Homo sapiens: one gene and its partners. The protein of the gene in region 5 interacts with the protein of the main gene of each other region in a pairwise test. Each region holds a gene or a part of one and is shown on either strand. Other genes may lie near its edges.

Region 1 (3,500 bases), on a different chromosome or scaffold from region 5:
ACCACTACTATTATAGTTTATCATAAAATTATTTAAGCAACTTTTCTATGGTCTTATAACTACTTAGTAGAAGGTCCAGAACTAGCACAGAGTGTGAGGTATACCCACCCCAATACCTACTTAATGACAAAAGTTTCAGTAGAAGATGCAGTTGAAACTACAACCTAAACCAAAAAGGATGAATTTTCCACCCATTGCAATCTCAATTTCCACCAATAATTGAGAGATTGAAAGAGAGCTGTTAGAGGTAAGAAGACCTTCGGGTAAGACACTATTGACCTTATTCTGCCATCATGGGGGATAGGTGTTATAATCTTATGACAATCTATTCCTGCACCTTTTTTCCCCTCTGGGGATCACTCTGCTAAGTTCCGAGAAGTGCCATCTTTGAGATGCAGATGGGGCAAAGATACAACCAGAGAACTTTCCTCATGAGCGACGATCGATTACCCCATTACTTAAAGACCAGTAGACGTACATTTTTTTTAGCCTGAAAGAGTGAAATGCAGTGATATCCTGTGAAATAAGATATGAATCCTGAGATAATTTATTATAGAAAATACAGTGCCTTAATTATTTACATAACCCACAGGAACTCAAAGCACTTCACAAACAACTCATGAATTCTCTACTTATTTATCAATTATTGCATTCCTTAAATCTTACCACACCATTGCAGGTAAAGGGCAATGGAACCAAAATTATTATATTCCTCCAAATCAGGTTAATATGGCAATGAAAATGAATGGGTGCTTCTTAGGGTCATAAGAGAATGAATAAGAGCTGTTTGGAGCTGGACCTAGGACACTGTCTCTATCATGTGGTGCTTTGGTAAACTTTTTTTTTAAAGGAAAAGCAATAAAAAGAATATTTAGATTCGCTTCACCAAGTTCAAACATAGTATCATCCATCTAAAAGAGATTTGAAACCAAATTGAAGAATAAGCTTTCCTAAGATATGCCTATGACACAAAAGAAGTCAGGGTCATGCTTTACAAATGAAAATGTCTTCCAATTTAAATTATGTGCAACATCTAGGTTTTGGTTTATTTGCTCGTTTGGGGGTATTTTTATAATTTTGCCAACAACCACAACAAAAAGTTCATGGATGTCAACAGAATGCAGGGGCAAAACCATGTGAATAGGTCTGGCACCAGCAGTGAACTAAACACACAGGCAGGTAATGCCCCCTTCTCAGCCAACAGTGCAGCCTACTGTACAGAACCCACCCACACCCGGCCCAGCTCAATGCCCCACAGCTCTTAGTTCACAAGGTTCTATGTTTCCCCGCTTATAAATCCCCTTCCAGATCCTTCAGTATAACCTAAATCGCTCTCATGTCCAATCCTCACAGACACTCCTATTGTTAGAAAAAAATGACACCAAAATTTCCCAAATTCTCATTCTGGCAGCTTTGACCAAATTGCTCTTTGCACTTCTCAAAAGCCAGAATTGTTCTAATTCTAGTAGTAGACTAAAAATGGAATACACAAAAGTGACTAAAAAGAAAAGTCATTTCTCATTACAAGTTCTTCTTATATTATGTCTGTCAGAGTTATATTGTTGTAGGTCTACGGCTTATATCCACATTATAATAAATAAATAATATAGGGTCTAACCACATTACTTCTGCCTTAACACACTGTACCTGAAAGATAGCATCAGGTAAAACTGATTTGTAAGTTCCTTTCATTTGATCCCCTTTTCTTTCCTCTGCATCTTTACCAGGAGGGAGAAAAAAAAAAAATGAACCAAATTCTTGAATTTTCTCATCAGCAAGAAAAGTTTTTGCATTTGCTGGCTATCGATGACCTTCTACAAAAATGACTCCTACCACTTCAACCCCAAAAGGAATCTGATCAGAGGCTGCTTCTAAATGGTTTAAAGTTATTTTACTCCTATTTTGCTCAAGGCCTAATACCATCAGAATTCTCTTCCCGCAATCTCTAGCTTCCTTCCATAACCCACCGCCCCTCCACCTACATATGCAAACATACACACACACATATACATAGACACACAAATTATTCTCTAATGCTTTAAAGGGGAGAGGAGAGGAGAAGTCCCATAATGTAATTGCTATATTAAAAAGAAGTGGCAGGCGAGAATAATAAGGGAGGGTGTCAAAAGTGAAATAAAGTAGTAGAATTAAAAAAACACACACACACTACAGTTCTGTGATGGGGGTGTTAATTGAACACAGAGAGAAAAGGAAAGAGAGAGAACAAAAGGGTGTTAAGGAGCAAAAAATAAATTTTTTTAACCTCCTCCAAAGATTTGATTTGCGTTAACTTTGATGCAGACAATGCACAGAGGAAAATTGGCTGAAAAGTGCCATATATAGCTATTATGTTCTAAAATTAAAAACTATTCACAACAATTGCAGCTATTCATTGCTATCTATAAATATTCTCCTTAGTAAATGGCATTCAATATTTTTCGTGTTTTCCTAATTTTTAAACTTGCGTGATTTTGACACAGGAATAAAAAACATCAGGAAATGTTTAAAAATATATTCAAGGTTTTTTTAAAGAAATGTAATATGCTTGACTTTTTCTCCTTTTCTTCTATCCCACCAACCCCATTACCACCATATATACACATATGCAAAACTTAGCCTATTACTAATATGCCAGAAGACAAGGAATGGATCTTAAAAATCCAAAAGAAAGTGTTATATTAAATGATCCAAAACTCTAATTGTCTCTGTATTCCTAGAATGAGCGAGCAGATAAAAGCCACATGTGAAATATACATTGCTATAGGTCTTGACAGGGTTTTTTAGCTGCTCTTTGAGAATTGCCACCCGAGCATTTTGCTGGCACTTCTTCTTAGCATTTATTTTTTTAAAAGCGAAAATGTATCAGAATAAAAACTACCCACATTCTGAAGCAAGAAGATGCATGGGTTCTTTTGTTTTGTTTTGTTTTTTAAATATCCCCACAGTAATTTCTGACTTAAACACCCATCAATCAATTGTAATTCAGATGGCACCTTCTACTTTGGGGTGTTACGTGCATGTGTGTATGTATTTTTAAAGTTCCAAAAGGTTGGTAATACATCTTAGCCAGTTTTTGTATCTATTTCTAAGTCTTCCAACTATAAAATCATTAACAAATGCAAAAAAGCAAAAATAACAAATCAATGCAATTACCAAGTTCCTCTCAAGAGTTCTGCCTAGGTGAGCCAAATGTATGAACTTCGTGTTAGAATACAAACAAACAAAGCCCACCCTAAATCAAGTAACCTCTATTATTATTATAAGCATTATAATGCTTGAGATGGAAACTCAAAAATACTCATTTAATGCAAAAAGGCTTGAAAGTAACAATAGAAAAAGTCCCCAAACAATAAAGGAATGTATGTGAACTGATCACTCAAGCGATGTTTTCACCAGCTCTGTATCAAGAAGAAGAGGGGGAAAAAAAAAAAAAAGCTCCTGCAACTTTACAGACACTTTGTTCCTCCGACCCATCAACTGCATGAAAGATATGCTGGCAA
Region 2 (3,500 bases), on a different chromosome or scaffold from region 5:
CACCCGGCTAACTTTTTTTTTTTAAATAAAGGTGGGGTCTTGCTATGTTGCCTAGGCTGGTGTCAAGCTCCTGGGCTCAAGCGATCTTCCACCGTGCCCTCCCAAAGTGCTGGGATTACAGTCTTCAAGTACATCTTAGTAATGTACTGTGAAATTAAAATTTATTTAAGATTTCAGTTATTATTAAGATGAGCTTCGTGCATGTTATATTGTCGAAACAAAGGTACTTTATGGTAAACTTATAAAGTATAGTCTCTAAGATCCTGTTACAAGAGACTAAAAGCACCCACGGTAGAAGAGACGGGGGTTTTGAAGCCGTGTGGCTGTGTGACATTTCACCTTCATTTGTTCACTGCCTGAATGTGAATGTAATTTTGGCTGGGTTCTATAAACCCCAGGCTTGGAATGATTCAGATTTTGGAGAATTTGCTGTCCTCAAATCCCAAGTAATTTTCTTCTCTCCCTTAGGCACTATGTCGTCCGAGGCCCAGAGATGACCCCTTATGAAGGTAAGGATTCTGTGCTTAGGAGAAGAACACCAGGCGGTTTTTATATTCTCAGTCAGCCTTGCCTGTTCAACATCTTTTATTTGCAAACAGCAGCCTTTCTACTTTGGATGTGTGCTAGTTAAATTGGCTTAGTTGGAACTCCTCCTCGTCTGCTTCTCCACACGCTGGAAGTGTTTGCTCTGCTGATGTGTCTCAGCCTGCAGGGCCGCCTGTAGCGTCTGTGTTCACCAGCCTCTGACACCATAGGGCCATAGCTGAGAAAACCAGACCGGGGTAAACACTGAAGCTGGCCTGTTCTACTATTTCTTAAGACCCAGTGCATATCATCAAAGGAAAGGCACATATATTCAGTTATTCAGTGTGCCTTCTGTGCTGGGCGCCCCCAGGGTTTCGCAATCCCCAGGACGGTCTCTGAGCTAAGTGGAAGTACCCCTGTGTGGTGGCACCTGGGGCTTCGGTAGGCTGCAGGACCTGTCCAGCACCTCAGCCCTTCATCGACTACCAAGGCTGATCCAGCAGCCTGACCCCTCCAGGTCAGCAGACACCACCTAGAGACCTAGTGTCATTTATAGAGAAGATGCTGGAGCTGTCAGTAAGTTTCTGGGGCCTTTGGCGGAGGCTGGCGCCAGCCTCGATCTGGACCAGGTCAGTAGTCAGTGTGCCCGTGAATACTGTCCCGCCGGCAAGCACAAGGCAGAGCAGGGCCAGGTCAGCAGTTGCTGTCCAGCCACAGGGCCCCGGCTTCAGGTGGCTGGAGCAGCAGGCTCTGTTTGCCTGTGTGTGGAGGCTTTGGATGAGATTTCACTAGAAGAGAGTGCTGCTGCTAGAAGAAGGTTTGCAACCCCTGCTTTGGACTGTCGGGAGGGTTGTGGGTGGGTAAGAATGAAAAAGGCTCTCCTGAAGGCATTTTGGCCGAGTTAACACAGCCACACCTGTGGACTCTCCTTTGGCCCAGGAATCCCAGTTCTGGATCATCTGCAACTAGGGCAGCCAGAGTGCGGGAGTACATCTGTAGGGTGGGCCCTCCATCATCGTGTCATTGCCCATGACCAGCGTTGGGGATGCCAGCAGGCCGTGGTGAGATAAGGCCCGGGAGCAGGTGTCCAGGGCGTGTTAAAGTACTTGTTACGATGCGTGTGTGTGCCTTCAGCTGATCTGAAGAATATATACCACCGAGTGAGTAGTGGTCGGCCGGGCGCGGTGGCTCACGCCTGTAATTCCAGCACTTTGGGAGGCTGAGGTGGGCGGATCATCTGAGGTCAGGAGTTCGAGACCAGCCTGACCAACACGGAGAAACCCCATCTCTACTAAAAATACAAAATTAGCCGGGTGTGGTAGTGCATGCCTATAATCCCAGCTACTCGGGAGGCTGAGGCAGGAGAATCACTTGAACCCGGGAGGCGGAGGTTGCAGTGAGCCGAGGTCGTGCCGTTGTATTCCAGCCTGGGTGACAAGAGTGAAACTCGTCAGGAGATCCAGACCATCCTTGCTAATACGGTGAAACCTTGTCTCTACTAAAAAAATACAAAAAATTAGCTGGGCGTGGTGGTGGGGCCCTGTAGTCCCAGCTACTCAGGAGGCTGAGGCAGGAGAATCGCTTGAACCCAGGAGGCGGAGCTTGCAGTGAGCCGAGATCGCTGCACTCCACCCTGGGTGACAAGATCAAAACTCCATCTCAAAAAAAAAAAAAAAAACCAAAATGGGTGGTGGTCTTTGACAAGCAAAATTATGCCAGCTTTACATTTTTTTTGTTTGTTTTGTGGTTTTAGTTTTTTAAAAATAAATAGTGAATATTAATTCTGTATCCACACCCAGTCTCCCTCAACTTCACCAGCTAGGTCAGTTGCTGGTGGAGATGAGCTGCTCCCCCAACAGGGCTGGACACAGTTGGGAGAAGAGGGGGCAGCCCCTGGGTGTGGTGCGGCCGTTGCCAGCCCCAACCCTGTCACTTGTGCTTTTATCTTGGTCCCCTCCCATCGCTTCCGTTGTTCCCCACAACCGTGTGTGGCTCTGTGCTGGTCCTGGGTCTCAGGAAAGCCTCCCTTCAGAGAGAGAATGTGTGTTCCTACTGCCCCTCCCATTTCCCTCTATGGCACTGCTGCTCCCGTCCCCGCGGACCTCCCCCTCACTGGGGGATGCCTTTTGCTCTCTGCAGCCCTGCCCTCTGCTCTCCTTCAGGGTCTCCAGGGAACCCCTCCGAATTGCCACTTGCCGAGGGGCTGTTCTCAGTCCTCAGTTTCTTAGCCTCTGGTATCTGATGCTGCTGACGACAGCTTCCTTCCTGACTTCGGGATTTCTGACCCCTTTTCCTGCCTGTGCATTAGCTGCGTCCCCTCCGTGCACTGGGTTCCGTGGCTGTTCTGCCCCTGGTGCTGCCCAGGCGTGCCCACTCTGACAGTTCAGAGCTGGCTTCCTACAAATGTTGCTAAATCATTCCCCTTGAGTGAATCTGTAGATTTCACACAGTCCTAACAAAATCTCAGTTTTTTATACTACACAAGCTACATGCAAAGGCAAAGGACCTAGAACAGTTAAAACCATTTTTCTAAAGAATGAAGTGGAGTCTGTGGTTTCAAGACTTACCCCAGTGATGAGGGTCAGGCAGTGGTAGAGGAGGGACAGGCCATGGGGCAGAGTAGCCAGCTAGGCCTTTGCCTCAGGCTTTTCAGCAGATGGCCTGGGGTGTGGGGATGTTCAAGCTGCCAGGGACCCACTTCAGGACAAGTGGGTGCTTCCTGATTTTCATCTGGTGCTGTGAACGTCTGTGTGTGTGTGGCTCTTGGTGCCTTTGTCTTGGGTTTCTCTGGCGGGTGACAAGCAGTGGGATAGCCGTCTGGGGCTTCCCGATAGGTGTGCGCGCAGTGAGGCAGCAGGGCGCCCGTCTCCCATCCCGACAGGTGTGCGCACGCAGTGAGGCAGCAGGGTGTCCATCTCCCAGCACCCTCTGCGCTCAACTGGCTGTTTCCTGCCGTGTAAGTCACTCTTGCCCAT
Region 3 (3,500 bases), on a different chromosome or scaffold from region 5:
GGCCAACATGGTGAAACCCCGTCTCCACTAAAAATACAAAAATTACCTGGGCATGGTGGCGTGCAACTGTAATCCTAGCTATTCAGGAGGCTGAGGAATGAGGATTGCTTGAACCCAGGAGGCAGAGGTTGCAGTGAGCTGAGATCATGCCAGTGTACTCCAGCCTGGGCAACAGAACAAGACTCCATCTCAAAAAAAAAAAGTCCTTTTTAATTCTAAGTTGTAAGTATCTGAGGATACAGCAAAAATCTAAGAAAATAATTTAGTTGCTACTGAAAATAACATACAGCTTAAAATGTGTGGCTGGGCGCGGTGGCTCACACCTATAATCCCAGCACTTTGGGAGGCGGAGGCAGGCGGATCACGAGGTCAGGAGATCGAGACCATCCGGCTAACATGGTGAAACCCCGTCTCTACTAAAAAAACAAAAAATTAGCCAGGCGTGGTGGTGGGTGCCTGTTATCCCAGCTACTTGGGAGGCTGAGGCAGAAGTATCACTTGAACCCTGGAGGCAGAGATTGCAGTGAGCTGAGATCGCGTCATTGCACTCCAGCCTGGGCAACAAGTGCAAAACCCTATCTCAAAAAAATAATAAATCAATAAAATAAAATAACAAATCAATATATAAACAACTGTTTTTTAAGCATTATTTGTGTGCCCAGCACTGTGGTTTAAAAGTGGGAAAAAAATGTTTTCAAGACACATGAACTGTCTTTCAGGGTGAATCTAATTCCTAACATAAACCAAAAAACTGCCCACATTTTGCTGAAAATAACATGCCATGGAAACATCATCAGCAGCAAAGAGATGGGCAAATATAGCCCAGTGATTATAGACTAATATGACTTTATTTTTTAATGAATAAAACAAGATTAGGCCAGGCGCGGTAGCTCATGCCTGTAATCCCAGCACTTTGGGAGGCTGAGGCAGGCAGATCACCTGAGGACAGAAGTTCAAGACCAGCCTGGCCAACATGGTGAAATCTTGTCTCTACTAAAAAATATAAAAATTAGCCGGGCGTGGTGGCACACACCTGTAGTCCCAGCTACTCGGGAGGGCAAGGCGGAACAATTGCTTGAATCCAGGAGGCAGAGGTTGCAGCGAGCCAAGATCGCGCCACTGCACTCCAGCCTGGGCAACACAGCGAGACTCCATCTCAAAAAAAAAAAGAAAAGAAAAAAGATTAAAATAGCACACTTCTGATTCAAATTATTATTATTATTATTATTATTACTATTATTATTATTATTATTTTGAGACGGAGCATTTGCTCTGTTGCCCAGGCTGGAGTACAATGGCACAATCTTGGCTCACTGCAACCTCCACTTCTTAGGTTCAAGCAATTCTCCTGCCTCAGCCTCCCATGTAGCTGGGACTACAGGCGCCAGCCACCATGCCCCACTAATTTTTTATTTTTAGTAGAGACAAGAATTCACCATGCTGGCCGAGCTGGCCTTGAACTCTTGACCTCAGGTGATCCAGCCACCTCAGCCTCCCAAAGTTGATTCAAATTATTTTAACAATCTATTTTTAATTTTCTCAACTCTCAACAGGAATGGTTACAACGTTATCCAAGTGAGGTACTTCAGGGCGTGTCTCACTGTTACAAAAGCCTATCTTGGTTACAAAACCTGGTCTTTTCTTTCCCACCTTGGGATGCCAGTAGGGAAAGGATACTTTTGAAAGGTATGTTAAAAATGTCTCCTCCTGAGATAAGGTCAGTGGTTCTCAGTCTATGGTAGGTCTCCTTTTGTAGTATATACTGTAATACTAATTGGCACTTATCAGATTCTTCTTTATTGTTACCTTTTGTCTTAATGCAGGTGTCATGTCCCATTTCTCTGTAAGATAGAAACATGTCTGCACATGGAAAAAGTTCAAATATTCCTTGACAAACCAAAAGCCAATGTATCACTTCAAATGTCTCATCAGAAGACAGATGGTAGCCCAGGCATCTTGGCTCATGCTTATAATCAATCCCAGCACTTCGGGAAGCTGAAGTGGGGGGATCACTTGAGGTCAGGAGTTCAAGATCAGCCTGGCTAACATGGTGAAACCCCACCTCAACTAAAAATACAAAAATTTAGCTGGGCATGGTGGCACGGCCTGTAGTCCCAGCTACTTGGGAGGCTGAGGCAGGAGAATCGCCTGAATCCCAGAGGCAGAGGCTGCAGTGAACCGAGATCGCACCACTGCACTCCAGCCTGGGTGACAGAGCAAGACTGTCTCGGAAAAAAAAAAAAAAAAAAACAAAGAAAAGAAAAGAAAAGACAGATGGTATATAGGCCCTAGTGAGGAAGAATTTACAAAACTTACTTATAAATCTTACTGTTTCAAGAACTATTCACAATGTGTCTGACTTGACCCAATAGATGCTTTTCCTTAAAAACACATCTTAAAATCTTTTTTACAAATTGCAATTTCCTTACATAGGTAAGTTCAAAAATACTTATATTCAATTGAGATTTTTTTTTCTTTTGAACAGGCTGTCACCTAGGCTGGAGTGCAGTGGCGCCATCTCAGCTCACTGCAACCTCTGCCTCCCAGGTTCAAGAGATTCTGGTGCCTCAGCCACCAAAGTAGCTGGCGTACACTACTACACCCGGCTAATATTTGCATTTTTAGTACAGACTGAGTTTCACCATGTTTTCTAGGCTGGTCTCACATTCCTGGACTCCAGCTATCTGCCCACCGCGGCCTCCCAGAGTGCTGGGATTACAGGTGTGAGCTACCGCGCCAGGCCTAAGATCGACTTTCTTTTTATTTTTTTTTTTGAGATGGAGTCTTGCTCTGTGGCCCAGGCTGGAGTGCAGTGGCACGATCTCGGCTCACTGCAACCTTTGCCTCCTGGGTTCAAGCGATTCTCCTGCCTCAGCCTCCCGAGTAGCTGGGACTACAGTCGTGCGCCACCACACTCAGCTAATTTTTTTTTTTTTTTTTTTTTTTTGGTAGAGATGGGGTTTCACCATGTTGGCCAGACTGGTGAACCGCCACCGCGCCCGGCCAAGATTGACTTTCAATTTACAACAGCTTTTAACTAACTTCTAGCTATTTGACTTGGGAAGTCAAGAAGCAAATAATTTCTAAACATCCATTCAGATGCTCAAGGATGCCCCTGGAAAGTACAGTGATAGTACGTTATCAATTTCCCCTGAAATTACAACTTTTTTTTTTTTTTTTTTGAGACGGAGTCTCACTCTGTCACTGAGGCTAGAGTGCAGTGGCGTGATCTCGGCTCACTGCAACCTCCGCCTCCCGGGTTCAAGCGATTCTCCTGCCTCAGCCTCCCGACTAGTGGGATTTCAGGCGTCCACCACCACACTCGGCCCACAACTTCAAATTTTTAAAAATGCATTATATAGCAGGAAATGTAAACTAATGCATCTATCCTCTTTAAGAAATTAATCTGGGCCAGGCGCGGTGGCTCACACCTGTAATCCCAGCACTTTTGGGAGGCCAAGGCAGGCGGATCACTTGAGGTCAGGAGTTTGAGACCAGAC
Region 4 (3,500 bases), 7.2 Mb from region 5:
GTTATCCATATGTACACAGAAAAGTATTTTCATTTATGGCACCAAGGTGTGCACATAGAGAAGCTAAATTATATTAGTAACTACCAGAGAGTTTGTTTCCTACGAGAGAAAATACCAGGACAAAAAAACCACTATAGACAATTAACCAGATAAAGAACTGAGAAAAAACTTGAGGGTAAAATAAATATCGCATAACTAATGAATGCGGCTTGGTGCAGATGAATTCTGTGATAAGAGGCAGATAGTATGAGTAGAAGGAGAAGGAACTTAGCAATTTGCACCAACCTAATAGCGCAGCTTTGCGAAACATTACACTGAAAGGCAAAGGCTTCAGATGAAACGTAAACATACATCTTATCAAAAAACTGCAATAGAAAAGTAGAGTTTCTAATCATGCCACCCAAATTTGCATGATACGCATTTATGCAAATGCACTAATGAAAGGGAATCCCTGTGCTTTATGTTGAGTTTGGTTTAGACTGGAAAACTCTGAAAAAATCTATTCTGAACCCTTCATGAAAACTCCTAACTTAAAACAAATAAACCTTGCTGAATTTTAGCCTAAGAATATGCAAATGCAGATTACAAACAGTAAATAAATGCCTGGCTTTTTTATTTTGGTCTGTTAAATCACGAGTCTCCACTAGTTTTCCATTAGTTGAGATGTATTGGACTTCAAAAAAAATACAAATTAATTTTATAACATATTTGCATAGCTCAAATGTACTCAGGCACACACATTCATTGATCAAAAGGCCTTTTGAAATATTTGCTGGATCATTTTTCCTTATCAACTCCATTGAGAAAAGGGAGGAAAATCCTCATTTCACAATGTTATTATAGCATGTACTGTTGAATGTATGCTAGGTTCTGTGCTAGGCACTTCATGTACATCATTTCTTTCAATTCTCACAAGTCATTACCCTCATTTTCAGAGGCACAAACTAAAATGACAGAAGTTAAGCAACTTATATCCAAGGTTACATAGCTAAATGTTGGAACACAGATTCAAATCTAGGTCTGCTAATATATTCAAAATTGCCTGAATATTTATTAGCTGTCAGGATTCTTTTTTACTTGTACTTTGATACAATCTATAGCATCACCTATAGTACTTGGTGTAATATGTATATGACATATGCTTATTGAAAAATGTTGCTAAAATGAATAAAGGGGATAACTACCTTAGATATAAGAAAGTAAAATATTGGAGAAACGCCTGAAGAAGAAATCATTTTCTATTTTAGTGCAATTTTATCCACTAATTTGTCAATTAATAATGGTAAGAACATACATGAAAATGTACCAATATATGACAGTGATACAAATAATTATACTTTAGCCTATCTATGCTATTCATATGTGGTTGAATTTTAGTCTCAGAAATAACATACATATCAACAAACTTGCCAGGGCAAATTATCCCTCCTCAAATGGTTAGGAAGTAAATTTTCATTGCCACCATTACTCTTAATTCAATTGTGCTAAATTAGTACACTCTAGAAAACAGAACTGAAGTATTATTACTCCCTCATAAAGAAAACAACACCCTAAAGAAAGCCTCTGTCAATGACTATAGACAAGACTCTTAAGCTCAATTTCCTTATGACTAAAATGTGCTGCTAATAATGTGGTTTTCAAACCGCAGCTCCCTAGAGTCACAGACGGTTTAGCAGAGATGTCTCAGGGACTCTGTAGGGGGAAAGAGGATGTCAAAGTGACAGGATGAGAGCTCTGGGCCTACATTTCTATGCCAGTTTCAACCACAATACTGTTATCTCTCTCACGTACTGGCATTCTATGTTAAAATATCCTTTTTCACATTTCTTTCAAATGGCAGAAACTCTATTTTTCAATCTCCAGATTACATCAACATTGGAAGTCTGTGATTGGGAAACAGCAGTGAACACCTGGCATTAGATTGCCTGGGTTCAAATCCAGCTCTACCACTTAATAGGTAAGTTCTGTGGCCTTACCTAATTTTCTGTGCCTGCTTCAATTTCCTCACTTGTTACTGGGTTGTTGTGATAAGTAAATAAATGTAAAGTGATTAAAATAGTGCTTAGCATATAATAAGTCCTATATAAATGATTGTTATTAAGATGACATTGATTATATAAACCTACTTCGATGATCTGAAGCAAAATCTGCTGCAAATATTATTTTAAATGTCAAATCTTCATAGAAATGTGTCATGGCTCATCAACAAGTACACGATTATCAAAGCAAATGAAAACTTACCAAATTATTTCAAAACTTTAGAAATAAATAGTCTAAACAACTAAGTTTGGGATCACTGACAATTTATCCTTTTACAGGCCAAACATGTTTACTTTAACTATACAGGGCGAGTATCCCTTAAACAAAATGCTTGAGACCAGAAGTCTTTAGACCTGGGGATGAGGCCCAAGTATAAACATGAAATTCATTTATGTTTCATAAAGTGCATCCATATATGCATACATTTTGTGCATACAACAAAGTTTTGATTGTGTTTTGACTACAACCCATCCATCACATGAGGTCAGACGTGGAATTTTCCACTTATGGTGTCATGTCACGGTGCTCAAAAAGTTTTGGATTTTGGAGCATTTAGAATTTGATATTCAAATTAGGGATGCTCAACTTGTACCAGATTAAAAATAAAACTCCATGAACAGTTGATTATCTTCCTCCTTCACATATTAAAAGTAGAAAAGGAAGCTGGGGCTTTCCCATAGGAAAGGTAAAATACAAAACCCTTAGGCCAGGCGTGTTGGCTCACACCTGTAATCCCAGCACTTTGGGAGGCCAAGGCAGGCGGATCACAAGGTCAAGAGATCGAGACCATCCTGGCTAACACAGTGAAACCCCATCTCTACTAAAAATACAAAAAATTAGCCAGGCATGGTGGCGGGCGCCTGTAGTCCCAGCTACGCTGGAGGCTGAGGAAGGAGAGTGGCATGAACCCGGGAGGCAGAGTTTGCAGTGAGCCGAGATGGCGCCACTGCACTCCAGCCTGGGCGACAGAGCAAGACTCCGTCTCAAAAACAAAACAAACAAACAAAACAAACAAAAAAACCCTTAGTGTTTGTCCCTTGTGACACAGATTTTGGCTATTCAATTAAAAGCCTTTTTTATATTCCTGGCCCTTAATTATTGTCAAAGAGTAGGGTCATTCCTTGATAGCTGGGTTGCATACCTATCACGAACCATTATTTTCTATGGGACATATTCCTCTCTTTATGTGACTCAAAAGAGAGTATCCAAACTAGCTAGGTATCCAAACAAGCTAAAATAGCATTTCTCAATGTGAATGACAAAGAATACTATTTTCAAAAGATGAATGTTTTCTTTTTCTTTCATAATTGAGATTTCATCAGTTGTGTTGAGGATCAGTACACAGACATTTCAACTTGTACATAATTCTGAACATATGTACTGCAAAATCTAAAAAGCCACGTATCATTATTATTCTCTAAAGTTATTCCAGTGACTTTCCAGCTTACAACTGAGGCAAA
Region 5 (3,968 bases):
TTTAATGGGTACACAGTTTCAGTTTGGGAAGATGAAAAAGTTAACGGAGATAGTTGATGGTGATAATTACAAAACAATTTGAATGTATTTAATACCACCAAACTGCATACTTAAAAAGATTAAAATGGTAAATTTTATGTTTAGCATATTTTACACAATAAAAAAAAAACTTTAAAAAATTTTCAAGCGTCTTGCCTATTATCCAGTCTTCCTTTTGCTAAATGAATTTGAATCAATTTATACTACTGTATGTTTTTAAAAAGCAAAAAAGTAAAATAATCCATGTAAAATGTATTTTCCTCTAGTGAGTACTAAGCTCATGTAAAAACCAAGTTCAAGATTTCCTGCTTCTCTTTTAAAACCGAGAAATATTAATATAAAAAAATGAATCTTCTCAGAAAGAAACCTGAGGCTAAATCACTCTACTTACAAATTATTTCACTAATGTCTAGTGTGTTTAAGTGTCAAAACAAATACATTTCTGAATTTCCAAACTTTTTATTAAGTCTTTCTCCAGAGGGCCAATTCACTAGTGAGCCTCCCTGATGTCTAACTGGCATATTAGGTAATAGACAGTATAATAGATGATTAAATAGCACCGAAAATATCATTACCCATTCTCCTGTGTAAACCAGTTTTTAAGTTTTAATTCACTAATGCTTTCCTGCCTTTCAACTCTAAACATGAACAGTTGTAAAACGTTCATTACATTTCACAACCTCTGAAAGGAAAATATATTTATTACATTATAGAATTCGATGACTTGTCCCAAGACTTCTAGTGAGTCAGCTTTAAGTATGGGAAAATTCAAGTGGTGCCACCACCCAAACTGGGGCTCACATCTTTGTGGACCTAACTGATAAAGAAGAAATACATTTCATGCAAGTCAAGACTTACTTAAGAAATAACTACAACTGCACCATTTATAAACATATATAAGATTTTTTTAACATTATCGCAGAAAGTCTGAGAAACAAGATTTTTAAAAATAATTCTGTCACATATAAATATACAAAAATAGTGAGAGATCACCTTAACTTTTTCAAATTAAAAAAATCCTATGGTCAGCTGATTTTAAATCTCTTTGTCCATCTGTACTATTTTCTTTCATTTTGATATCAACCTGTTTCCCTAAACTAAAAAATAAAAATAAAAACTAGAAACAAAACAAAAAAAGACTATTAATTCAATTTAACCGGAATTGACTTGAGAAATTAAGGCTTTAATTGCTTTTGCTGTACTTTTCAAAGTAAAAATATATCTGGTGGGAAATATTCATCAACGTGTTTAGTGAAAGGCAATGTCAAAACTAACATCACCTAAAATCAAAATTTCACCTTGCCAGATTAAATAGCTACTTACTCATTTAAAAAGACCAATACATGAATGCATAGTGAAAAAGTATCCAGGTAACTTAATTTGCAGTTTTGTGTAGTTCTGCAGATCTGTATGTATAAAATAACAACTTTGCATGTGTTTTGAGATGTACACATTCTTGTAAAATTTCTAGAAGGATGTACAAAAGAGTTAAGTGACTACTTTTAAGGTACAGATCAGAGAAGGGAGTTGTTTATTTTTCACTTTATGCTCCGCTCCTTCGATAAAATGGTTGGAGTTTTATACACCGCCAACACAATGTTTTTTCAAAAGACTTCTAAATTTCACTTTGTAGTTTAAATCATACACTCTGTAAAAACTTAATTGTTTTTCATATTTATTTAATCTCCCAGATTACCTACTTTGTTGATCTCGTGGTTTGGGGGCTGAATACACTCTTCTCCAACTCCTCCAGAATCTTTTATTCTTATTCTAAAATTAAAATAATGTTATCTTTAATGTTTTCAATTTATTGTCTCATGTCATAAAAATGGTTGTTAGTTCACTGTCTTTGATATTTATCTTCACGATGCTTCATCGTGTTTTCAGAAAAGCCACAAACACCAACACAGTTGCTGGAGCTGCAGTAGAGGTATCGCTTGTTCCTTGAAAATCCTAACTCTGACCAAACAGACTGTCACAAAGGACCTCTTTTCACAACGTCAAGTAGCTTATGAGCTCTCGACAATATTACCCAACAATGGTGATGGCAGAAAAAACATTCACGGTCATTTTAGAGTGCTTAAAATTAACTGCAAGACAAAAGCATCCATGGGAGTAAAATACCTTGCCAGCTCTAAATTATAACTGATTTAGTATAGTTTGCTCATCTCTCTGTTCTGCCATTTCAATGCTGTGGGACCTGGGTCAGTATTACCAAATACCTCTCAAAAGTGAGGCTTCACATCTGTAAAATGGGTAACTGCACCTACCTCACTTAAGTCCTGCGAGCACCTCCCACAAAGGGGCTCAAAATGGCAGTACTCTTCCCTTCCCCTTCTCAAAGCTCCACTCTCCCAGGCCTCCCTCCTAACGCGCCTCCACCTCGGCACCCGCCCGTCCCCAACCCCGCGGGACTGACCGACTCGGCGGCGTCCGCTCAGCTCACCCTCGCCACCACAGAGGGCCTCCTCCCTCACAGGAACGCAGCTCCACAGTGGAGGGACGGGAAAGTGGCTCCCCAAACTCCAGTATGGGACAAGAGGGAATGAGTGCAGGTCCCAAGCCACTCCCTCCATCGTCGCGCCCCCAGGACTCCCCGCCCAACACACTAGGCACACCAGACTGTGCTACAGGAAAAGAAAAAGGACTCAGAACCACCTTCTCCGCATCCGTAAAGGTCCTTAGACTCACCGCGGGGAGGAAGCGGACCAGGCAACTCCACAGCACGGAAACACAGCGCCACGAGCTCCAGGCGGATGCTGAGAGCCGCCCCGAGTCCCCGCCCTCCTCTGCCCCGAAGGGCTTCAGGTGCCCAGACCGGGCGGGGCCTCGCGGAGCCTCGCAGCGCAGGCGCAGTCTGCAGGCAACATTCAACTGCAAGGCATCGGCCAATGGGAACTATTGCTGGGCTCGTTCGAAAGTAAACGGTGGACGGCGCGGCCCGAGGCAGGTGGCGGGAGTCAGTTTAAGGCTGGCGCCCAGCTTTCCGCGCCTGCGTGCTAGGCGCAGGCCGCCTCTCGGAAGCTTGGCCTCGCAGGAGCGGCTCTCTATCCTGTGGGGAGCTTCGGCCAGTGGGCCTCGTGAGCTGGGGTCCCGCCTGGGGAATCCGCATGGCACCGGTGGTCTGGGGGAGAGGCTGGGCCTGGCGCGGGACGAGGCGAAGCGCCGGTGGCCGACGGCTTCTGAGGAATTATCTTTTACTTGGCGCCACACGGGGCGGGGCCTCCTGCTATGCTGTGGAGCGCAGTGTCTTCCATCGTTGCCTCACAGACCCGCTGCTCCGGGAAGTCGCCACACATTCTCAGGGAACACCCACATCTGTCGCCTGCGCCCTCCGCCGCTCAGCTGTTTGCTTTTGTTTACGCATTCCGGAGACCTGACCCACCGGAGCACTGGGCTGAGCACAGGAGAAGGGGCTTTGGAGCGCTCTTTGTACTCAACTCCAAGAGCGAGTGGGAAACTCAGGACTGGGTTGGGTAGATCCCTGCGTCTCTCCCTAGCCTTCGTCCTCTTCCCCCGTTTTTCCACTTTATGAAAGTATTGCCTAGAGATGAGGGCTGTCCAACTCAACACTTCCAACTTCAAGTTCCTACTTCACCTCTAACTCCCTAGAGTTAGAAAACAACGTACAGCTTAGAGGTTCCTTTCCCTTTTTTTCTTGAGAAACTTTATTCAGCTTTATCTCAAGACATCACCGCTTCCCTCTCCTGTCAACCTTAAATAGTGAGGTTCTGGAAATATGATTAAGGATAGAGTTTATTCCAGCGTAAGGCTTGAGGGTAGCCACCCAGGAGACACCAGCTCCAAATGGGGTTAGCATTCCAAAGTGAAGAAGTTAGGGTTTCGCCTAGGTGGCCAGAGACAAATTTTAACAGGATTTCATTTCCCCTAAGAGACCAGTGCATACTTACAGCTATTTGGTAGGTTAC
Region 6 (3,500 bases), on a different chromosome or scaffold from region 5:
ATTTCTTTCTTCTCTTGCCAGGCAAGGGAACATAGTGCAACTTCTTTCTATCCCCAACAGTAACAAAAACCTTATAAAGAAAATGTTTTCATTTTTTTTCTTACTTTAAACCCCATTCTTAACAACAAGAACAACAACAAAAATGGAAAAGGGTTAAAAAACCTGTCTAGGCCACGTGTGGTAGCTCATGCCTGTAATTCCAGCACTTTGGGAGGCTGAGATGGGAGGATTGCTTGAGCCCAGGAGTTTGAGACCAGCCTGGACAACATGGTGAAACCCTGTCTCTACAAAAAAAATGCAAAAATTAGTCAGGCATGGTGGTGCTCGCCTGTAGTCCCAGCTACTCGGGAGACTGAGGTGGGAGCATTGCTTAAGGCCGGGAGGCAGAGGTTGCAGTGAGCTGTGATCGCACCACTGCACTCCAGCCTGGGCAACAGAGCGAGACCCTGTCTCAAAAACAAAACTGTCTAAAAGATATAAAGGGAACGAACATATGACGTTTTGTGGCAGTTTGAATGTCATGTTTATTGTATCCGCAGGGTCTCGATCAGTACCTGATATACAGTAGTTGCTCAGTGAATGCAAGCTGAATGAATGAATGTTTTCCTGATTTGATAGTAACTGGGTCTTTACCATTTCTTTTTTTTTTTTTTTTTGAGATGGAGTTTCACTCTTGTTGCCCAGGCTGGAGTGCAATGGCGTGATCTCGGCTCACTGCAACCTCCGTCTCCCGCGTGCAAACGATTCTCCTGCCTCAGCCTCCCGAGTAGCTGGGATCACAGGCACCTGCCACCATATCCAGCTAAATTTTGTAGTAGAGACGGGGTCTCACCATGTTGGCCAGGCTGGTCTTGAATTCCTGACCTCAGGTGATCTGCCCGCCTCGGCCTCCCAAAGTGCTGGGATTACAGGCGTGAGCCACCGCACCTGGCCCCTGATCTTTACCATTTTCAAATGTACTGTATCTTATGGTGCTCCCAAAAACTGTATGAAACATTAACTTAATGAAAGGGGGAGGTATTATTTAGTGATTGTATAAGGCCCACACCTAGATAGCAAGAAGGCTGGAACTCAGGTTTTCAGACTCAAATTACACTCTCTATTTTGTTACTTTTTAGCTATAAAAATAATTTTATGGCTCCATATTCCCTTTGCAAATAAGGACACCTAAAATTTAAGAGTTTCTTAAAATTTCTTTTCTTTTCTTTTTTTTTTTTTTTTGAGATAGATTCTTACTGTGTCACCCAGACTGGAGTGCAGTGGCAGGATCTTGGCTCACTGCAACCTCCATCTCCCAGGATCAATTGATTCTCATACCTCAGCCTCCTGAGTAGTTGGGATTACAGGCACCCGCTGCCAGGCCTGGCTTTTTTTTTTGTATTTTAGTCTAGATGGGGTTTTGCCATGTTGGCCAGGCTGGTCTTGAACTTCTGACCTTAAGTGATCTGCCCTCCTTGGCCTCCCAAAGTGCTGGGATTATAGGCATGAGCCACCGCGCCTGGCTGTTTCTTAAAATTTCAACTCCCTGACCTGCATATAGTCATGACAGTGTTTATAATTTGTATTTGTGGATTCACGTATTTGTGGATTCGCTGTGTTTCAAAGGATCCACCTAATCATTGTTTTCAGCAAAACCAAAAATGTGGACAGTTGTGTAATTTATTATTTGCCTTCTTGATTTCCCACCAAAATCAAACTACCTGTAAATACAGGACACATTCAGATTTCCAAAGAATAGAAATGGTCTAAAGTTATAATCTGTCAGAGTGTGTCTTACCTCTTAGCTAAGCTACCTCTCCTCCTGAGCCTTTGGTAGTTCATGGGAATAAGGAAATGAGACAGTATTTTTGCTTTAGAAGTAGGGTAGTCAAGAAGTCTTGAGAAACGTGAAATTGTCTTCTGAACAACCCACACTTTAAAAAAAATTGCGCTGAAGAATTTTACTTCAGTAAGTAAGTCTATTAGACTCCCCATAGCAGGCCTCAACTTCACCCTTTCGGTTTTCTCTTTCTTATTCAAATATTTTTGTGCCTCAATTATTTGGTTGTGTCTTATTGCTAGAATCAACAGTAATGAGCTGCACTCTTTTATTAGTGTTTCCATTAGAAGTTTAGAGCTAGATCACTGGGGTAAAAGAATAGTGGTTTATGACATAATAGGTATTTTGACTCTACTAGCCTTTTTCTTTTTTTTTTTTTGAGACGGAGTTTCGCTTTTGTCACCCAGGCTGGAGTGCAGTGGTGTGATCTCGGCTCTGCAACATCTGCCTCCTGGGTTCAAATGATTCTCCTGCCTCAGCCTCCCGAGTAGCTGGGATTACAGGCTCCCGCCACAGTGCCTGGCTAATTTTTTGTATTTTTAGTAGAGACGGGCTTTCACCATGTTGGGCAAACTGGTCTCAAACTCCTGACCTCAGGTGATCCACCCACCTCGGCCTCCCACAGTGCTAGGATTACAGGTGTGAGCCACCACTCCTGGCCTATACTAGCTTTTTAAATGCTGATTTTTAATTCCCGTATTATGGGGCATAAACATTTTCACCAGACATTTTGCCTAGGGCAAGGTGATTTACACATCTTTTCTGCATGTCTGATATGTTCTGTTCTTACACGATATTAATCCATTGGAATTTTGTGTTTGTGTGAGCAAGATTCACAAAGGCATATTCCTTTAAATGAATTTCAGAAGAAAAAGTTTCCAGTCCTATAAAGCCTCATATTTGAGTAGTATACTCCTTATCCCATTTCTTCTTCTGGCCAACTCACAAGATTTGGAATTATTTGGAAAGCAGTGACACAAAACATTTTTGAAAAGAAAGGCTAAAAATATCCAATAATGTGGTTATTCTTTTTAGACTTCCTTTGGCAGTCAGTGCATGTCATACGGTTAACATTCTTTTTCTGGGAGAAAAAAAAACTGAGTCTGACCAAATACTTTCTAGTGTGGCCTGATCACCAACTCTTAGCCCTGGGCATTAGCCCTCGCATTTTCCACCCCCAAGTCTCCAAGCATAAGTAGCTGTCTTTCAATAAAGGCCCCAGTTTGAAACGTGTATTTCACTCCTAATTTGGCCAAAGGCCATTGGCTAGCAGTCCCTCTTCAGAGGGGATGGTGAAAAGACAGTAGGATATATGATAAATGCATGCAAAGGAGCTTCTCTTCTATATGACAAGTCTTGGCTAACTTAGCCTCTTTGCATCTTCCTCTGTTTGAAGAGCTACACACATTTGCCTTGTAGGAAGTTTTTATTCTCATGGCAAGCAGGCATTACCTCTATTACAAGGCCCCGCTTATTGTTCACCCTGTGATGTAAGAGCTTTTAGGACTCCAACAATATTAGCCTTCTCTTTAATTCCTTTCAGGCCCCATCGCCATCTCAGAACCATGGCCTGGAGTTGCCGCCCTCCATTCTCCTTAACATGTCGACTCAGAAAAGTCTTAAAGCCCGCTGTTCTTTCCCTTCATAGCAAAAATTATAATTTATCATTATATTTTGTTTA
Region 7 (2,700 bases), on a different chromosome or scaffold from region 5:
TAGTACTACAATTTAGCAATTATTTCTCTCTTTAATCAGAGTAGTCTATTGATTTTACACACTATGTTGTGTTTTTGAGACACAGTCTCACTCTGTTGCCCAGGCTGGAGTCTAGTGGTGTGCTCTGGGCTCACTACAGCCCCCACTTCCTGGGTTCAAGCAATTCTTCCACCTCATCCTTCGAGTAGATGGGACTATAGATGTGTGCCACCATACTTGGCTAATTTTCGTATTTTTAGTAGAGACAGGGTTTTGCCATGTTGGCCAGGATGGTCTCGTAGAGACAGGGTTTTGCCATGTTGGCCAGGATGGTCTCAAACTCCTGGCCTCAAGTGATCCTGGCCTCAAGTGATCCGCCTGCCTCAGCCTCCCAAAATGCTTGGATTACTGATGTGAGCCACCGTGCCCAGCCTCACACACTATGTTGTAAGCTCCAAGTTTTTATTCATCTTTGCAAACCCAATGAGGTTTGCCTGTAATAAGCCTTCAGTGAACACTTCTTGAATTAAAGATCTTTATTTCATTCTAAAAAATCTTCAGGGTCCCCATATTTGAAACATATGTCCACTCCTATCCTTTCATTGTGATTTATTAAAAGATAAGGTGAAGAGATGTGTGCATTCTATAAATCTCTGACTAGATTAACCATAATGTTTTCCTTTTCTGAAGATAACGCTGCTCTGCAAAATTTCTCAGTTGCCTATCAATAAGACAAAAGCACCTTTTTGTAACAAAATTCAGATGTTTAATTTTTTTCAAAACTTAACTATACTAATGAAAATAAATTATATGTAGACCACCTTCAATATTTTTACATCATCTTTATACAACTGTAACAGTGCTTTCAAAAGACATTTTGTGAAGGACATTAATTTCACATTTAAAACGTGTTTCAAAAATAAGGGAACATTAAAGAACATCAAATTAGTCTGAAATATATCTCACAATGCTGAGAGGCATACTCTTCTTTATCAAATTAACTGTATGTGTACTCAAGATAACATGGCTTTTAACTAATGACATTTCTTGTCCATTTCAGTAATTTCTTGGATCCAAAACAAAATCTGTGTATTTATTTCTTTGAAAACATCATTTGTCGACCGTCCTTTCACTGCCATGGAATGATTTGCCTTCTCAATCCAGTGGATTTTATGGGGAGCTTGCATTTTCTGTGCCACTTTCTCCAACAAGTTCTAAAGAGAAAAAGAAGAGGATACTAGACTAATGTTCTGTTGATATTTAATAAAAGGTCCTCTCTCCCCTGCCTATACTGGCATTCATTCCCAAGTATTCATTAAATGCTTTCTCAGACAACTTTCTAGGTAATAGAATGTGTGAGGAAATGTCCGTAAAAGTGGCAGTCCACTTCTCTCAGCTGTAGCAGTATCAGATCAAGCATTTATTACTAATAAAATGTAAAATAAATTGGAATAAAAAAATTTCTTCCCCCAAAAATCTTTTTCCCAAGCAAATTATATGCCCTGGGGAATATAAAGTTGTTTCATAATATTGGGCTAATATTTAGTAATGTGTAGACATTGCCAACCCTTTCTCAAGAATCAATTTTATAACAAATACTCTGCCTGAATGTTGAAATGATTAAAAAAATCTATAGTGTAGTAATCCCAAAATCAGATGATTCAGATATTAATCCTTCATTTTCCAAGTAAGGGTCATATTTACCAACTCTATTTCCAGGGATACAAATTTTGTCACTATACTTATATTTTTAGGTTCTCAAAAGCAACAGAGTAACCAGGACACAAAACTAGCATTAGTCAAATTAGCAATTTTTAAAAGACACTGTTGCCAGAAGTATCTTGCTCCCAAGATATGTCTGCCTTTCATTCTCTTTCATTGACACAAACATTGAGTTATAATTCACCTTTTCACACATTTCATCTGCTGAGCCTGACACAAACAGTACAGGCTCTTTTAAACGAAAGAGGTCTTCATCTCTGAGTTTATGCTGCTGCTTTGGATGGTGCAGTGGGTAAGAAATACAAATGAGACCCCGAACAAAATCATCACCATCATCTGGCTCAATGTGACACATTACAGAAGCAGCTGCTCTTGAGCCCATTGAACGACCTAAAATCAATTAAAATTAAGTTCAGTTTGAAATATAAACTTTCACATAAAGTAGCAGTGATGGTGTGGCAAATTGGATCTTTTACTGTTCATCATATCTGTTTACCAACAAATTAACTCCAAAAGGCAGCAATTAACAAGTTGCAATACCAGGCCAGGCACGGTGGCTCACACCTGTAATCCCAGCACTTTGGGAGGCCTAGGTGGGCAGACTGCCTGAGGTCAAGAGTTTGAGACCAGCCTGACCAACATGGCAAAACCCTATCTCTACTAAAAACACAAAAATTAGCCAGGCATGGTGGTGCACACCTATAGTCCCAGCTACTTGGGAGGCTGAGGCAGGAGAATCACTTGAATCCCAGAGGTGGAGGCTGCAGTGAGCCGAGATGGCGCCACTGCACTCCAGCCTGGGTGACAGAGCAAGACTCTGTCTCAAAAAAAAAGCTAAAAATTGATCTTAAATGCTAAAAAAATAAAAGGCAATTATTTTTCTAAAGAACACTTAAAAGGACAAGGACAATCATTGTAAAGGAATCATCATATGCAGGATGATGATTCAGGGATATGAATAAAAGGAGAGAGGCTCAGATTATAATACATATACATGAG

What was found.
Region 1: the proteins of TRIM59 (region 5) and PBX1 interact in a two-hybrid assay, tested with the Homo sapiens proteins (one large-scale study listed by BioGRID).
Region 2: the proteins of TRIM59 (region 5) and UBE2J2 interact in binary tests that used the Homo sapiens proteins (3 or more experiments, as listed by UniProt).
Region 3: the proteins of TRIM59 (region 5) and SPTSSA interact in a two-hybrid assay, tested with the Homo sapiens proteins (one large-scale study listed by BioGRID).
Region 4: the proteins of TRIM59 (region 5) and PDCD10 interact in a two-hybrid assay, tested with the Homo sapiens proteins (one large-scale study listed by BioGRID).
Region 6: the proteins of TRIM59 (region 5) and RASSF3 interact in binary tests that used the Homo sapiens proteins (3 or more experiments, as listed by UniProt).
Region 7: the proteins of TRIM59 (region 5) and TEX30 interact in a two-hybrid assay, tested with the Homo sapiens proteins (one large-scale study listed by BioGRID).

Annotation. Positions count from the first base shown.
Region 1 is NC_000001.11:164,565,684-164,569,183, reverse strand, and holds part of PBX1 (pre-B-cell leukemia transcription factor 1), read right to left. Parts: intron 1-3,500. UniProt on the Homo sapiens protein: Transcription factor which binds the DNA sequence 5'-TGATTGAT-3' as part of a heterodimer with HOX proteins such as HOXA1, HOXA5, HOXB7 and HOXB8. Binds to the DNA sequence 5'-TGATTGAC-3' in complex with a nuclear factor which is not a class I HOX protein.
Region 2 is NC_000001.11:1,260,355-1,263,854, reverse strand, and holds part of UBE2J2 (ubiquitin-conjugating enzyme E2 J2), read left to right. Parts: intron 1-468; coding exon 469-509; intron 510-1,464; exon of another isoform or gene 1,465-1,570; coding exon of another isoform or gene 1,571-1,586; intron 1,587-3,500. UniProt on the Homo sapiens protein: Catalyzes the covalent attachment of ubiquitin to other proteins. Seems to function in the selective degradation of misfolded membrane proteins from the endoplasmic reticulum (ERAD).
Region 3 is NC_000014.9:34,455,741-34,459,240, forward strand, and holds part of SPTSSA (serine palmitoyltransferase small subunit A), read right to left. Parts: intron 1-3,500. UniProt on the Homo sapiens protein: Component of the serine palmitoyltransferase multisubunit enzyme (SPT) that catalyzes the initial and rate-limiting step in sphingolipid biosynthesis by condensing L-serine and activated acyl-CoA (most commonly palmitoyl-CoA) to form long-chain bases.
Region 4 is NC_000003.12:167,689,893-167,693,392, forward strand, and holds part of PDCD10 (programmed cell death protein 10), read right to left. Parts: intron 1-3,500. UniProt on the Homo sapiens protein: Promotes cell proliferation. Modulates apoptotic pathways. Increases mitogen-activated protein kinase activity and STK26 activity. Important for cell migration, and for normal structure and assembly of the Golgi complex.
Region 5 is NC_000003.12:160,446,987-160,450,954, forward strand, and holds the start of TRIM59 (tripartite motif-containing protein 59), read right to left. Parts: upstream 2,801-3,968; 5' UTR 2,731-2,800; intron 1,810-2,730; 5' UTR 1,740-1,809; intron 1-1,739. UniProt on the Homo sapiens protein: E3 ubiquitin ligase involved in different processes such as development and immune response. Serves as a negative regulator for innate immune signaling pathways by suppressing RLR-induced activation of IRF3/7 and NF-kappa-B via interaction with adapter ECSIT.
Region 6 is NC_000012.12:64,613,495-64,616,994, forward strand, and holds part of RASSF3 (ras association domain-containing protein 3), read left to right. Parts: intron 1-3,500.
Region 7 is NC_000013.11:102,765,388-102,768,087, forward strand, and holds the end of TEX30 (testis-expressed protein 30), read right to left. Parts: intron 2,092-2,700; coding exon 1,886-2,091; intron 1,194-1,885; coding exon 1,014-1,193; 3' UTR 501-1,013; downstream 1-500.